Regions from separate parts of the Homo sapiens genome. Here region 1 is linked to region 2. Evidence: fine-mapped expression QTL. A gene starts in region 2. The other region holds a variant in brackets. All regions are shown on one strand. Distances are between the middles of the regions.

What was found. PIP is the estimated chance that this variant, and not a neighbour inherited with it, causes the effect.
Region 1: its variant is the best candidate, but not a certain one, in a credible set for the expression of ATP13A2 in lung (TOPMed, PIP 0.77).

Annotation. Positions count from the first base shown.
Region 1 is chr1:16,986,526-16,991,858 of GRCh38, forward strand. ATP13A2 (ATPase cation transporting 13A2) reads right to left here. Exons shown (of 29, transcript NM_022089.4): 20 at 5,209-5,333; 21 at 3,602-3,762; 22 at 3,362-3,478; 23 at 3,166-3,245; 24 at 1,797-1,949; 25 at 1,613-1,709; 26 at 521-744; 27 at 280-431; 28 at 1-107. Among named protein-coding and RNA genes, the nearest start is that of MFAP2, 8.6 kb to the left of the region's middle. The variant G/A (reference allele first, on the strand shown) is at 2,405.
Region 2 is chr1:17,009,479-17,014,843 of GRCh38, forward strand. It overlaps ATP13A2 (ATPase cation transporting 13A2), which reads right to left and starts at 2,450. Exons shown (of 29, transcript NM_022089.4): 1 at 2,251-2,450. The coding sequence starts at 2,260. RefSeq lists enhancers at 702-781, 1,545-1,594 and a silencer at 2,085-2,614.

The DNA of each region.
Region 1 (5,333 bases), 23 kb before region 2:
GGTGTCAGTGATGTTCCTCAGCGCCAGCGGCCCCTGCAGGAGGCCGGGGACCAGGACAAGGCCCACCAGGACGGAGCTCAGGAGCGCCAGGGCCACCAGGAAGGGCACTGGGAGCAGGAGAGTCTCTCAGGCAGGAGCCACGCCCCCCCGGCACCCACAGACACACGTGTGCACGCCAGTCTTCCACTCGGCCGGCACCTCTCTCCCATCTGCCTCCCCAGCACCCCAGGGCTCCTCCCTCCCTCCGCCAGCATCTCCCGCCCGCGCCCGCAGTGGCACCATTGGTGTAGAGCGGCCGGCGGAAGGGCGCCCCCTTGGACACGGCTGCAGCCAGGATGAGGTACTGGAAGCTGGACAGAGAGAAGACCACGGTGTTCTCGTAGTTGGGCAGGTTGTCTGGTGCGGCCACTGTCCTGTTCAGAGGCACGAACCTGGGGGTACAGGGATGGGGGTCAGGGAACGAACGTGGGGTGGACAGGGAAGGGGCGGGATGGGGGTGGTCAGTCAGCTCCCTACTCACCATGGCTGGGCCAGGGTCAGGAAGTAGCCCCCTAGCTGCACGCCGGTCACCAGGACCATCTGCAGCAGCAGGCTGCTGAGCACGGGCACGCTGAGCAGCGCCCCCGGTGGCCGCACCCGTCCCAGGACCAGCGCTGGCCCCGTGCGGCTCATGAGCACTGCCACTGTGGTGGTGATGACCAGGTCGATGGCCAGGAACTGCAGGTCACCCAGGTTGGTGTTGATCTGCCACAGGGAAGGGAGGACAGAGGGGAAACTAAGACCTGGCCCTGGCAGCCCCTAGTCTGATAGCAGAGGCCCCACCCCTGCCCCGAAGGAATCTGATGGGTAAGGCATCCCCCAGTCTAATGGGGGCCGTACTCTCCTGCCAGCCCAGCGGAGGAGGTGCCGCTCTTGATGTGAGACAAACCCCTGGTCTGATGGAAAGGGCACCTGTGCTGACCTTGGGGGCCTAAATCTGAGGGGAGGTTTCCCTCCCTGTAACAAACTCCCGGCCCGAAGGGGAGGCTTCGGCTCTGCCTTGCGGAGTCCCTATAGCTACCAGGGCATGCACAGTTCCTGCCCTCAGGGAGCTCCTCGCTTTCAGGCAGACACAGGGACAGACCCAAGTATAAGATGTGCGCCGCCCTGCAGTGTCACCTCATTCGCTGGGGGTGAGCAGGCCATGCCCAGAGCAGGGGAGGGGAGAGCTCCTCCAAGTAGGGTGTGGGAGGTACAGCCAAGGTATGGGGCAAAGCAAGTGCATCTGGGGAAATGGGCAGACCTGTGGGGATGGGGCGGGGGCGAGGGTTTTGGCCCTGCCTCCGTTCAGTCTTCCCTGCAGATTGGGGAGCTCCCAGAGTTGCGGTCAAGATGTTAGCCCATGACAGCTGCTGCCATTTGTGAGGACCTAGTGGGTACCAGGCTCCGTGCCTGGTGTTTTTCTCATCTCCCCCAAGCCTTGCCACCTCTCCAACCACACAGCCGGAGAGTGGCAGGGTCAGGATCTGGGCCCACGTCATCTATTCTGGGACCTGCCAGCTCCAAGGCACAGGGCTGTGTCCCCTCCCTAGTCCTGGGACGGCTCTGGGTACGGAGCTCTGCAGATACTCACCGTGTAGAGGATCAGGACGGAGATGAACTGGGTCAGGCTGTACAGAGCCATGTACTTGAAGACGCTGAACGAAGTGTCAAGGGAACAGCGCCCCTCCCTGGGTGGCAGGGCACGGACATTAGGGGACCCAGGTTGGCTGACCAGCCCTGCTGAGCCCTCACCCACCGGTCCCTGCCTGCCTTACCTGATGACCATGGGCACGCACTCAATACTGGCCATGCTCGAGGTGAAGGGTGAGACCACTGAGGCTTCTGCCTGGGACAGCGAGATGCCGACATCAGCCGCCTTCAGGGCCCCACAGTCATTGGCGCCGTCTCCGCACATGCCCACGCAGTACCTGAAGAGAGGTGTGGACAGGTGTGGCCTGGGGAATTACCCCACCACCCCATGGGTGGGCTGGCAGAATATGATGACAGCTGGGCCCCTAATGCCACATGGTGCCTGGTGTACAGGAGGCGCTCAGTGAATAGATGCAATTATTATTATTATTATCATTATTATTATTATTTTTTGAGACGGAGTTTCACTCTTGTTGCCCAGGCTGGAGTGTAATGGCATGATCTCAGCTCACTGCAACCTCTGCCTCCTGGGCTCAAGTGATTCTCCTGCTTCAGCCTCCCAAGTAGCTGGGATTACAGACGCCCGCCACCACGCCTGGCTAATTTTTTGTATTTTTAGTAGAGATGGGGTTTCACCATGTTGGCCAGGCTGGTCTTAAACTCCTGATCTCAGGTGATCCACCCGCCTCGGCCTCCCAAAGTGCTGGGATTACAGGCATGAGCCACCGTGCCC[G/A]GCCTATTATTTTTTGAGACAGAGTCTCCCTCTGTTGCCCAGGCTAGAGTGCAGTGGCGTGATCTCTGCTCACTACAACCTCCTCTGCTGCCCAAGTGCCCTCAGCCTCTTGAGTAGCTGGGATTACTGGTGTGCGCCACCATGCCCAACTAATTTTTGTATTTTTAGTAGAGACAGGGTTTCACCATGTTGGCCAGGCTGGTCTTGAACTCCTGACCTCAGGTGATCTGCCTGCCTCAGCCTCCCAAAGCGCTGGGATTACTGGCATGAGCCACCGCGCCTGGCCTATTACTATTTTTTGAGACGGAGTCTCGCTCTGTTGCCCAGGCTGAAGTGCAGTGGTGTGATCATGGCTCACTGCAGCCGCAGCCTCCCAGGCTCAAGCAACCCTCCTGCCTCAGCCTCTTGAGTAGCTGGGATGACCGGTGTGTCACCACACCTGGCTAATTTTTAAATTTTTAATAAGAGATGGGGTCTCACTTTGTTGCCCAGGCTGGCCTCAAACTCCTGGGCTCAAGTGATCCTCCCACCTCGGCCACTCAAAGAGGTGGGATTACAGGAATGAGCCACCGCACCCAGCCTACAATTATTATTTTTAGCATGAAAGACCTGGGAGAGCCTGCCTGCTTTTGGTGAGGAGGGGTGACAGCTCTCTGGTGCCTGAGGAGGGAGACAGGGCCCTGGGGAAGGACAGATGAACAGACGAACGGACAAGCTCAGTCTCCGCAGGCCCTTGCCCACACCCTCTGCCGAGCACTCACTGAAGCTTCTGTAGCTCGCACACCAGCTCTGTCTTCTGCTCAGGGGCCATGCGGGCAAAGACAGTGCCCTGGACCAGGACCTGGGAGCACAGGGAGATGGGGGAGGGCTGAGGCACCCACCAGGGAGAGCGAGCCGTGAGGAAGGAGACAGAGCAGGGGAGGCGCAGGGCGGCCAGGGAGCTGGGGGCGGCCCTACCTTGGGCAGCAGCTTGGGGAAGTGCTTCACAATGATACCAAAGGTGGGCCCGCTGAGGGCCAGGTGCCTGGATCGGGGGTCTGGCTCCACGGTGTAGCTTGCAGCCTGGTCAGGATCCTGGGGGCCCAGGAAGCTCAGCTTAGCTCCCCCTGCCCACCCTGGAGAGTTGGGGCCTGGGTCAGGTGACACAGGGGTGGGGTCACTGGGTGAGGTACAGCTGGAACTCTGGGTTAGCCTCACCTTAACGCCATTCACGGCTGTGGGGGACTCCATCGGCAGGAACTCGAGAGAGGCAGGCTGACCCCGCTCAGGGTGGGTGGCGTGGACGATGATCAGATGCTCCTGGGGGGCCACCATGCCACAGCCCCGGGCCACAGTCACCGCTGTCTGCAGGTTGTCCCCTGGGGGTTATGGGGCAAGGTGAGGGTCTGAGGCTATCCGGGGAGGCCATCCTCATCCTGATCCTTACAGATGGGAAAACAGGCTGGATGAAATCCGTCTGCCACCACCAGCCAAGTGAGCTGAGGCAGGTTACCAACATCCCTTTGCCTCAGTTTTCTCATCTGTAGATCCAGGCATTGAAGGGTCTTAGGAGAACCTGGAGCCGTGGGCTGGAGCTCCACATATACTCCTTTTTTTTCTTTTTTTAAGACAAGAGTCTCTCTCTGTGGCCCAGGCTGGAGTGCAGTGGCTTGATCTCGGCTCACTGCAACCTCCTTCCTCCTGGGCTCAAGCAATTCTCCTGCCTCAGCCTCTTGAGTAGCTGGGATTACAGGAGGGTGCGACCACACCAGGCTAATTTTTTTTGCATTTTTAGTAGAGATGGGGTTTCACCATGTTGGCCAGTCTGGTCTTGAACTCCTGGCCTCAGGTGATCCCCCTGCCTCGGCCTCCCGGAGTGCTGGGATTACAGGCACGAGCCATGTGCCCAGGCTACATATACTCCTTACTGCTGTGTGACTCTGCTGCCAAGTGCCCATGAATGTGTGTGCACATATGTGTGTGTGCAGGGGCGGGGAGGACAAGGACACAGACCTCTTAGCTCCTGCTGTCTCACCCTAGCTAGAATCTTTTTTTTTTTGAGACTGGGTCTCTCTCTGTTGCCCAGGCTGGAGTGAAATGGCGTGATCTCAGCTCACTGCAACCTCCACCTCCCGGGTTGAAGTGATTCTCCTGCCTCAGCCTCCCGAGTAGCTGGGATTACAGGCATCCACCACCATACCTGGCTAATTTTTTGTATTTTTAGTAGAGACGGGGTTTCACTATGTTGGCCAGGTTGGTCTCGAACTCCTGACCTCAAGTGATCCGCCCGCGTCGGCCTCCCAAAGTGCTGGGATTACAGGCGTGAGACACTGTGCCCGGCCATTTTCGTATTCTTTGTAGAGACGGAGTTTTGCCATGTTGCCCAGGTTGGTCTTGAACTCCAGGGTTCAAGACATCCTTCTCCTTTGGCCTCCCAAAGTGCTGGGATTACAGGCATGAAGTACCGTGCCCGGCCAGAATCTTTCTCTTCCTGCTCCTTGAGCTTGTCACAGCCTCTGAGGCTGACATCATTATCCCCATTTCTCAGAGGTGCCACCTGGAACCCAGGCTGTCTGACAGCGCACATGGGTTCCTTGGAAGTCACTCCACTCCTCTGAGTCTCAGTTTCCTCATCTGTCAAACAGGGGTGACAATTACCACTTGCGGGGGGGATATTGTGAAGATTCACGAAATGTTTAAAAAGGACCTGGCCTGAAGCAAGGGCCCAAAAAGATGCCCCAAAAAGGAATCCCTGGTGCCCCTCTTCTCTGCCAGGAAGGGGCGGATTCTGCCCTGCTAGCCCGGGCCCCTACATGCCATTGTACCTGTCACCATGACGGCGCGGATGCGGGTCCTTCGCAGAGCCTGGATAACTGGCGTTGTCTGCGGCTTCAGTAGGTTCCTCATGACCAGCAGCCCCAGGAGGCTCAGGTCTCCTTCCACAGTGTCC
Region 2 (5,365 bases):
CTTGACCTCCTAGGCTAAAGGAGGTACTCTTGCCTCTGCCTCCCAAGTAGCTGGCACTACAGGCAGGTGCCACTGCACCAGGCTAATTTTTTTTTAGTAGGGACAGGGTCTCATTTTGTTGCCCAGGCTGATCTTGAACTCCCGGCCTCATGCTGATCCTCCTACCTCAGCCTCCCAAAGTGCTGGGATTACAGGTGTGAGCCACCACACCCGGCCTCAAGACTCTTTATGAAGAAAAGGTTCTTCAAAAAGAGGGCAGAGTCCCCAGTATGTAAACAGCGGTCCCCCTGGGAAGTTCTTCCTCATGGCAATCGTATGACTGTCACTTCACAATGACACTCTCTCAGTCAACCTTGGCAAAGAGGAAAAGGGGAGTGGAACTTGAGGGAGGAAGTCACAGCTGTGGAAACCTCCAGAGCCCCTCCCTGCAGGGATCAAGCCCAGGGCACTCTCTCCTGCAGTACATCTGTTTATCCCCAGCCACAGCCCAGTCTCCCCAGGGCTTCTGTGGGCTCAGACCAGCCCAGAACAGGCACCCACAGGCTGTGTGGGGGGGCGAGAGCACCTTCATGATGGCATTGCTCTTTTTTTTGAGATGGAGTCTTCCCCCCCCGTTCCCCCCTTCCCCCCTGCCCGTCTCCCAGGCTGGAGTGCAGTGGAGAGATCTCAGCTCACTGCACCCTCCACCTCCCAGGTTCAAGCAATTCTCCTGCCTCAGTTCCTGAAGTAGCTGAGACTACAGGCACATGCCACCACACTCAGCTAATTTTTGTATTTTTAGTAGAGACGGGGTTTCCCCATGTTGGCCAGACTGGTCTTGAACTCCTGACCTCAAGTAATCCGCCTGCCTCAGGCTCCCAAAGTGCTGGGATTACAGGCGTGAGCCACCACGCCTGGCCTGTCATTGCTCTTCTGATGAACAGCAGCTCCCATGGAGTGCTCACCATGCCCTGCGGAAGCCCTTCAGTGTGCTAACTCAATGAAGCTTCACACACAACCCTCTGGGGTAGTGACTATTATTATCCCCATTGTACACCTGGGGAAACTGAGGAACAGCATGTGAATCCCTTGTCCAGGGTCATAGAGCTTGAAAGGGGAGAAGCTGGAAATGAGTGTGTCTGAATGGGCACATTCTTTCCCACAGCCATTCCATGAAAAGTACAGATTAGGATTCCCATTTAAAACGAGGCCCAGAGGAGTAGATTGACAAGCACAAAGTCACACAGCTATGAGGGGCCAAGACTGGACTTGAACCTCGTCTGAGGTCACAGCTCGGGGCAGTGTCACCAGCACTGTGGATCAGAGGGGCTAGAGCCATTTGGGACCTCTTATTTCCTGCGGAAGCCTTGGCTTCCTGCTGGTGACCTGGCAGCGGCCCAGGGCGGCTGCCTCCTCCCTGGCTGTGGTTCCCGGCGGCGGGGAGCTCCTGTCTTCTGCCAGGCTGAGGCGGGAGTGTGTGTGAACCATCTTCCCATCTTTGGATCTGGATTCTAGGGGCTGTCTTTCCTCATTCCTTCCCCTCCCTCGCCGGGGGGTGCACTCTAGGCTGTGGGGCTGGGGGCTGAGTGACAGACACTGAGATGAGACCTTTCTGGATAGGGGAGGAGGACTGGCCCCATTCCCGGCAGGTGGGATTTAAATTAGACCCTGGAGGAGTGGGCGTAGGACATCTGGCCAGGGATGGGTTGCATGGAGGGTGTGGCCCTTGGCCCTGGGTGTGACGGGTTTTCTCTGGGGTCTGAGGCAGGAGGTCAGGAGTGGCGCTGTGGCCCAGGACATCTACCCAGGAAATGGAGTCCCGACTCCCCCAACGCCATTCATTCATTCATTCAGCCCAGAGGGGTTGCCCAGAGGCCCGAGGATGCAGCCGTCTCCCCCACCTGGACATCCGTCACTCGGGGTGGGATCCGATTAAGTGGGCGTGGGGTGGCCTCCCCGTCCCCGCACGGCCCCAGGACCCTCTTGCACAAGCGCCCGGCTTCCAATCCCGCGGCTGAGGGGTGCAGGGGAGGGGAGGGACCGGCTGCGAGCGGCGGCGCCATCCCCAGCCCCGGCGTCTCTGGGAAGAAACCGGGGCCGAGTCCCCGTCAAAAGGGAGGGGACGGGCCAGGATCCCCAACCAGGTCCCGCTTCCTGGGCTCGCGACCCCGCGGTGGGGGGCGTCGCCTCCCCTCTCCCTCCAAGGGGTGACGACAACTGGCGGGCCGGGGACCGCGCCGGGCTCGGGGCCGACCCGGACTCCGCACTCACCTGCGCTCATGCCGGCTCCTCGCGCTCATCGCCGGCCCCGGCGCTGCGGCCCTCGGCCTGGGCCCCGGCGTGCGCAAGGCCCTGGGCGGGGGCGCGGTCCGGACGGCCCGGGGCGAGGGGCGCTGGGCTAGCGCGGGGCTGGAGCAGGGCTGACGCGGGCGGGGCACCTGGGCCACCAGGCTCGGCGCGGCTCCGACACTGCCGCAGTCCCTCCGTGCGCGCCGCAAGCCCCGCCCGGCCCTCTGCGGCCCTCGCAGCGCCCGCGCCGGGGCTGCCGGGACTTGTAGTCCCCGCCTGCTCCTCCGCACACACCGGGGGCGGGGCGACCGGAGACACACACCTCACGGAGGTAGCCCCCGCCAGCACGTCCCAGTGGTTAGGGACTGTGCGTGCTGGTCCAGCTCTCCATGTCTTCCAGGCCGCGCGACCGTGAGCAAGTCACTGATCCTCTCTGGCCCTCTTTTCCCAACCTGTAGGATAGCAATGCCTGCTTCACAGAGAACTGCTGCGAGGATCACACAAGAAAATGCTTGTCAACTGGGCGTGGTGGCGCATGCCTGTAATCCCAGCTACTCGGAGACTAAGCCAGGAGAATCGCTTGAACCCAGGAGGCGGAGGTTGCTGTGAGCCGGGATCATGCCATTGCACTCCAGCATGGGCAAAAAGAGCGAAACTCTGTCTCAAAAAAAAAAAAAAAAGAAAATGCGTATCAAGCACTTGAGACAGTGCCTGGCGCTGCTTGATGAATGCAAAGAAGGAAGACACACCTGCCCAGAGATTCACAGGGTCAGATGTGGGCCCACAGAGACCCAGGGAGAGTCTGCCATGATGCACTGGAGGCCTTGAAATGCCAGAGAAAGAGAAGCCTCACAGCGTGACCTGCAGACACACCTGCACTGGGGGGATTCATGAAGACCCCTGAAAGGCACCAGAGATGTCTTACCTGCGTGCAGCATTTATCCTGCTACCCCATAGTGACCGGCACAGGCATAGTGTTCCCTGTCTCCAGGACCTCTGGACAGAGGAGCTCCAAAGGGGAGAGTGGATCTGTGAGATCCTAGGGCAAACAAGGGAAGGTTCACGTTAGGGCCAAGGATAGACGTGGGCAGGATCACTGGTCATTTGTCCAGTATGAATTTATGGAGTGCCAGCACCACTGTGGGAGCCAGGAACGTGAGAGTGAACAAAACAGAGATGCCCCTGTCCCTGCGGAGACTGCTGTCTACTGGGAAGTAGCCCTAGTCAAGGAAAGGAAAACTCCAACGATCCCTATTGTGGAAGGGGCTGGAAGGAGACACAGCTGTGATGGTGGTGAGGGTGTGGGTAGGGGATAGACCCCAGGAGGGAAAGCAGCACCTGATTCATAGCAAGATCCCAGTGAACATTTGGTACAGGAACACACGTTGGCAGGACTTGCTGGTGGATAGGATGTGGGGGTGCAGGAATGTGTGGAATTCAAGATGCTCCCCAGGGTTTTGGCCTGAGCAGCTGGGTGCCAGTGGAGCCATTTACTCAGCTGGGGCAGGCTGCCCGAGCCAACCAGTTGCGGGTCATTCCTGTTGACCACCTGGGCCATGGGACTGGCTTCCTTGGGTCAGGTGACAAGAGTTCTTTCATCTTCCGGTGACACTTCCAGGGGAGGCAGGCTGCTTAACTTTTCAGAACTCCCATGTCCTCCCCCAGGGCTTAGCTCAATTTCTGGCAGGAACCCAGCCTCCAGGGCAGCAGGAAGGCTGGGTTTGGAAATGGCTAGCCCAGGTGGCCTTGGCAAGAGGCAGTATGGTACAGTGGCAAGGGGCTGGGTTCTGGCATCAGAAAGACATGGATGCATGAGTTGCTTTCTAGCTGTGTGAGCTTTAAAATGTCACTTTCCTTCTCTAAGGCTCTCCTTCCCCTCACCTACAAAATGGAAGGCATGGAGAGGATGAAATGAGATGGCAGGAACTTGGTAGAAGCCAGCTGCTTGCTTTAGATCCTGGCACTGGATTAGCGGCTTCATAAAAGCAGAGGTACTCCAGTCTGGGTGAAAGACTGAGACTCCCTCTAAAATAAATAAATAAATAAATAAATAAATAAATAAATAAATAAAAGCAGAGGGCTTGGGGACTGCATGGGGGACTGCCTTGCAAGGGTGCCCCCTTCATTCTTTTTATTGCTAAGGCTGCCTGGCCTTAAAGGGGCTCTATTCCCTGAGCCAGCTGGGAAGGAGCCGCACCTGCAGCTCGTCCCTTCTCCTTAATGAGGGAGGAGGCCAGAGGAAGCTTCCTTCCAAACCACAGAGCATGTGGGAGGCCTTGCCATCTGCTTGGGGTTACCTTTGGGGAAGTGGCTCTCGGTGTGTGGTCATCGAGGAGGTCTGTGGCCCAGGCTGTCTTCCCGGATAACCGTGTCTGAAATTTCCAGTCCCACGTGGGTGAGAACCGACTGAACAGCTTCCCTTCTAGGCTGTGGCTCTCTTGGGAACCCACGGAGAGGGCGTAATAGGCCTGGTCCCAGTGGCAAAAAGCTTGAGAAATCACTAATTTGGGCGAGTTTATTCCAGAGCATTGCTTTACTTTTCGACTTCTCTAGTTTCACTAGATTTTTGCAACAAAAGAGGATTTTTTTCACCTAGTAACAAACCCTGTTGGTAGGATTATGGCTGTCTAGACACACAGTAAAGTGGGGTTTCAGTTTTTGTTTTTGTTTTTTTTGTTTGTTTGTTTTGAGACAGGGTCTCTCTCTGCTGCCCAGGTTGGAGCACAGTGGCATGATCTCAGCTCACTGCAGCCTCGACCTCCTGGGCTCAAGTGATCCTCCCACCTCGGCTCAAGTGATCCTCCCACCTCAGCCTTCTGTGTACCTGGGACTACAGGTGAGCACTACCACACCCAGCTAATTTTTCTGTTTTTTTTTTTTGTAGAGATGGGGTTTGCCATGTTACCCAGGCTGGTCTCGAACTCCTGTGCTTCAGAGATCCACCTTGGTCTCCCAAAGTGGGATTACAGGAGTGAGCCACTGTGCCTGGCCGAGTTTCAGCACTTTGTATGGTAGTTATCCTGGTGCCAGGAAGGGAAGGGGCCTGAAGAGAATTTGACCAATGGGAGTCCCTCCCTGACCTGAGCAGTGTGACGGG